2 separate regions of the Homo sapiens genome follow, and region 1 is linked to region 2. The links come from fine-mapping of genetic effects on gene expression. A gene starts in region 2. The other region holds a variant in brackets. All regions are shown on one strand. Distances are from middle to middle. Region 1 has its middle 7.2 kb from the start of MIR550A2. Region 2 holds the start of LINC00997 (long intergenic non-protein coding RNA 997).

Region 1 (2,937 bases), 32 kb after region 2:
TATTTTTAGTAGAGATGGGGTTTCACTGTGTTGGCCAGGCTGGTCTCGAACTCCTGACGTCATGACCCGCCCGCCTTGGCCTCCCAAAGTGCTGGGATTACAGGCGTGAGCCACCGCACCAATCACCAAAATATTAAAAATGGTTAGCTCTAAGAGGTGCTTACTTTCTCTTTTCAACTCTTTATTTTTTGACATTCTCCCCCCAGTGATTTCACATTAGTTTCCCAGAATGTATAGTGTTATTTTTAAAAAACCTCTGAGACATGAACATTCTGTTGGAAATTTTTTTCTGTTATTTTTTCTTTGTCTTTGAACTTTTAAAAATAGCTTGCAGTTTGGAAACAATTGGTCAATTAAATCTTCTGCTTGATTAAAATTGTAATGGGTACAGGTGCTATTATTCCATTCTGTTCCAGTTTTTATAATATATTTTATATATTTTATGAAGGAATAAATTCAAGGATCTAAATGAAGTGAATTATGAAATGTTTCTATAAATCTTTGTATTTTTCTATTAATCACCGTATTTTAATTATATACTTTTATATTGACTTACTATTATTTATATTACAGAATTGGCTATCACATATATAATATTTTTCTATATAGAGGCATAATGTGTAATTTTGAAGTGACTGATTCCTAAGTGAAATGATCTAAATAAATTTGTCAGAATTTATAATGTCTAAGGCAACCATCACAAAATGGTATTTTGGAAAGATTATTATTATGAAGAGAATATATTTTCCTCCATTATCTCTTTGTTTTTATCTTTTTAAAGGTAATCATAGCCTCCTGGTGTCGCACATCCATGGGAATAATGAATTTATTTGGACTAGAAACTAAGACCTGCTGGAATGTCACCAGAATAGAACCTCTTAATGAAGTTCAAAGCTGTGAAGGCATGTTTCTTCCAAAAATGCTGTCATTTGTAAACATTCATAAACATTTAATAATATTATGATTCACTTTTAAGAATTATTGTAAAATACTGTTGTTGATTTAAAAAAAAATTAGAACTGGCTCACCTCAATGAGTATTTTACGTTTTAAAGTAGTTTTCTGAGAAGGCTGTGTACTTACAAATTTGAGTATAAATTTTGGAATTTGAGTATTAACATATCCCATTGTAAGGCAATCTTGACTATAAGTTAGTCTTCT[G/A]TTTCAGAATGCGAAGATACAGAAAGATGTTTTTTGGGGTAGCTTCAATATATAAATTTTGAGGATAGATTAAACAGTCAAATATCTATTTGTAATAGCTAATGTATAAATTTAATTATGCATACATATTTAAAAATCGGATATGCAATAATAGATTGATTTAGAAACATTACTTTTTTATATATGCTCATAGTATTAATAAAACTCTTCCTATTTATCTTCCACATTGGTTTCTTTGTCAAAGAACCACTTTTGGAGTCATCCAACAGCTTTCCAGGATACATAGTGGTCACTTCCATTTAAGATGTTTGCATTTCAGCACTTTTATAATTCAAATATGGTGCTGTCCCTTGAGACTTGTTGAGAGCCACATGTATCTCTTTTTATAACACTAACACTGTTGTTTTTTCTGCATTTCTTCAAATTCTTAACAACATGACTTATTATATTTTATGAATAAATTTTTAGACTTGTTTGTAACAACATTCAACTCTTGGAATATAAACTAAATCTATTTTCCTTACATTTTTTACTGATTGCCTCAGTAAAAATAGAATTGATGAGGATGTTTGAGGGGCAATTATATTTTTTTGTGTACAATGTAAAGGATTGGAGAAAATGCCTCATAAAATGAGATACTTTGCAATGATTCAATCAGCTAGAAGGTGTGACCCTGTCTGAGTGGTGAAAATGATCACCTAAATATGGTATTAATTACCTTCCCAATAAGTGATAAGTTACTGTTTGGCACTTGGGACACAGAGATGAACCAGCTAGACATGGGGCCTTACCCTCATAGAGTTTATGCTGTAAGGGGTCTGTTAGCAGTTACAACTGTGAGGGATACTACAAATAAGAAAATAAGATTACCAACATGAGGAGTAAGAGGATAAGTATTTTAAGAATAGGGAATAACATATTCAAATATCCTGAAGCAAGAGGGAACTGAAAGAAGGCTAGAATTCCTGGAAATGATGGAGAAGAAAAATGATGTGAAATGGTGCTGGGAATATAAGCGAGGATCAGATCATGAAAGGCGTGCACTGGTGAAGGATTTTATACTTTATCCATTGAAGAATTTTAACAGAGTTTCATTTTAAAACATTATTTAATCAATGGTATGGAAAGAATATTAGTAAAGGGACAAAAGTAGGTTCAGGGAGGCCAGGTAGAAGACTATTATATTCTCAGCAAGTGATTGCAGGAAAGATAATGTGGATATGCAGGAAAGATAATGTGGATAATGTGGGTTTGAGAGAGATTTTGGAAGTAGAATGGACAAGACCCTGTCTTGGTAATTGTTTGGTAAGAGAGGGGAAGGTGAGTGAAGAATCATGTGAAACAGTTTGGTTTCTAGCTTAAGTAACTGAGCTTTGAATGGTAGGAAACATTTGAACAGTAGCAGGTTTGTATTGTTATGTTTCATTGTGTATGCATGAATTTGAGGTACTTGAGAGACCTCAGAGTGGGGACATCAAGTGGCTATCTGGGTATAAGAATAAGGAGAAAGTTCTGGATTAAATGTAGAGTTGGAGTCATCTGTATATAGATCATTGGAGCCATGGATGTGGAAGAATTTCTTTATGGAGAATGCGCAGATAGAGAAATGAAGGGGGCATATGACAGAGCCTAAGGTGGTCCAGTATTAAAGAGTGGTACATAAAACAAGAGAAATTACTGGAACTGATTGAAAGGAGTGACCAGAGAGGCAGGGGGAATCAGAAGGCCAGCCTTCAGACTTTGGCTCCAGCCAGTTAAAGTGAAATAACCTTTGACA
Region 2 (2,937 bases):
AAAAATTTCATATAAAGGAATAGAATACTAAAAAGAAAAAAAAACAAAAAAGGTCACAATATTCCATAATTCCATCACTCCTACCAATTAACTGAAGTAAAAAAACCCTCTCAAGTCTCTCCCTTTGCTTGTCAAGCCCTGCTGCAGAGAGGTAAGCTCTGTTCAGAATTTACTTTGTGTCCTGGATTTTTTCCTATGCTCATAGAGACAGGATTAGCTGGCCATCTTGCTTTCTGTGCTATCTTTTCTAGACATGTAAAATAATACATTTGAAATACTTGTTTTAATGGTATTTTATAATAAAGCAGCTTTTAATAACTTTTCTCTTTTCCAGCCGTCTTTGTGGCAATTTTACATTGGTAAGATTTAGTTTCAGTTCGAAATATTTAAAAACATTTGAATTAAAAATTGCCATCACTCTTTGCATACAGTAAAACAATAACTTCTGGCTATATTTGTAGAACATCTTTATGTACGCCATTTTATACATATATTTTGCTTTTTTACAAACCTCATATGTGAAACAGCATTTACAAAATAGATGCATTGGGGGAATAGTAACTTATGAATTAAAATATTTTGGCTTTACCAAATAATTCACCACGTTTTTAAAAATATCTAGCTTTTCTAGTGTATTTTGCATGTGTAGTTCATTTAAAACCCTCCTTTGTTTTATGGTAATTATATGTTGCTAGTGAAATAACTTTTTTTTTTTTTTTTGAGACAGTCTTGCTCTGTCTCCCAGGCTGGAGTGCAGTGGCGCGATCTTGACTCATTGCAACCTATGCCTCCCAGGCTCAAGTGATTCTCGTGCCTCAGCCTTCTGAGTAGCTGGGATTACAGGTATGCGCCACCACACCCAGCCAATTTGTTGTATTTTTAGTGGAGATGAGGTTTCACCGTGTTGGCCAGGTTGGTGTCAAACTCCTGGCCTCAAATGATCCACCTGCCTTGGCCTCCCAAAGTGTTGGGATTACAGGCATGAGCCACCACGCTCAGCTAGTGAAATAACTTTGGTGATAAAGTTTTAGTAACACCCGCCAATTGGAAGTCAGGTAAAAAAGAAGATAAAGATTCTGCAGTGGTTATACAGAGTTAAATGGCTTTGACTCTTTCAGTGTGCAAGGCTGTGTACATTATTTTACAAAAGTGTTTATAAAAATTTGTAAAATAATATTTCCCTCTGGAATATTTTATTTTTACCTGTGCTCAGCGATTTCTACCCTTGGAAGGTATGAGATCTGCCCCTATGTTCTATTGATACAGTGCTGCTCTAGACATTTAGTCTGCAGGGAGATTTTGGTATTAGAACTGAGGCTGCAATGCTAGGGAATATTCCTGCAGTTTTTGGTACCCTGGCATATGTCCTACATGTAAAGAAGGGTTAGTGGAAAACAGGGTTAATACATGGAACTTTGCTTTATTTTCAACTTCACTGGAAAGTACTGACTACATAAGTTAGCTATAGCATAATTGTTGACCACAGCTAATTTTGTTTATCACATATGCTCCTTTCTTCACTGCCTACAGCTGCTGAGTTTCACTACTAAAAGGTCTTCAAGTACACACCTGTATTCTTTGGCGCTTGAAAGTTGATCCTTTATGTGATATTATACTTATTGTAAGTCTGTTTTGATCTAAAGTAATTTTATTTAAAATTATATTCTGAACCCTTTTCAACAGTTACGGAGGTATTTCCCAAGGCTGGTACATTAGAATCACTTGAAACTTAAAAAACAAACACTAACCTGCCTCTGTTCTGATTTAGAGGCCTGGGATGGAAGGAAGGGTGAAACAAGCCACAAGAATTTTAGATATACAATTAAGTTGGTTTTTTTTTTTTGAGACAGAGTCTTACTCTGTCGCCCAGGCTGGAGTGCAGTGGCATGATCTCTGCTCACTGCAACCTCCGCCTGCTGGGTTCAAGCAATTCTTCTGCCTCAGCCTCCCTAGCAGCCAGGATTACAGACATGCACTACCATGGCTGGCTAATTTTTGTATTTTTAGTAGAGACAGGGTTTCACCATGTTGGCCAGGCTGGTCTCAAACTCCTGACCTCAAGTGATCTGCCCGCCTCGGGCTCCCAAAGTGCTGGGATTACAGGCATGAGCCAACGCACCCGGCAACAATTAAGTTTAAAAACCACTGAGTTAAGGAATTTCAGGTGTGTGCCATACTGCATTATAAATGCCTAAAAACATACGAGTTAGTAAGCAAATTATAAAAACAATATTATAACAATTTATTGTTTCCTTTTTTATGGCTTTCTTACTTATCGCTTATTTTAATGTTGGTTTTGAAACTTGTTCTTATTGTAATATGATACTTCATTGCACTGTTTCATAAGCTATAACCCAGGTTTATTATTTAAATAGTAAAGTGTTTGAGATTATTTTTCTGTTACTTCATTATCTCTCACCCTTTCCTAATGCAGACTTCTTTTTAAGATAATGAAGATGAATTATAGTAGCTGAGGAAGGAGGACAAAGAAAGCACTGAAGAAGTGATAAAGGGGAATGAAATGAGATGTTATCAGAAATTGCTTTTTCTTTGGCTACAGTTGGGAGGTCCCATGTTTTACTGGGTCTTTTACTGATGATGATTATTATTTGGTTCTCTTTTGATTTCAAGATAATCTCTTTTAAGAGATGACTTTTGATATAATTTTTAAATATTTTTCTGTTTTTCGATACTTAATCTTTAAAATGGAGTTTTCTGCCATACACATCTCACATAATTATTGTGAGGAGTAAATGGGATAGCGAATACCAAAATTGTGCAATTTTACATTTAGAAGACACCACAACCGTCCATCTTCCAGATCTGCTCCCAGCTGGTCGGGGGCCTACTGAAGCATTGAAGCTGACTCTCCTCACTCTAGCCATTGCTTTTTGTTTAAATTATGGTGAAATTTAGATTTAAGTTTGTAATAGAAAA

The links.
Region 1: its variant is fine-mapped to the expression of LINC00997 in whole blood (TOPMed, PIP above 0.99).

What each region holds. Positions count from the first base shown.
Region 1 is chr7:32,724,315-32,727,251 of GRCh38, reverse strand. No RefSeq gene overlaps it. Among named protein-coding and RNA genes, the nearest start is that of MIR550A2, 7.2 kb to the left of the region's middle. The variant G/A (reference allele first, on the strand shown) is at 1,161.
Region 2 is chr7:32,756,698-32,759,634 of GRCh38, reverse strand. It overlaps LINC00997 (long intergenic non-protein coding RNA 997), which reads right to left and starts at 1,349. Exons shown (of 1, transcript NR_036501.1): 1 at 1-1,349.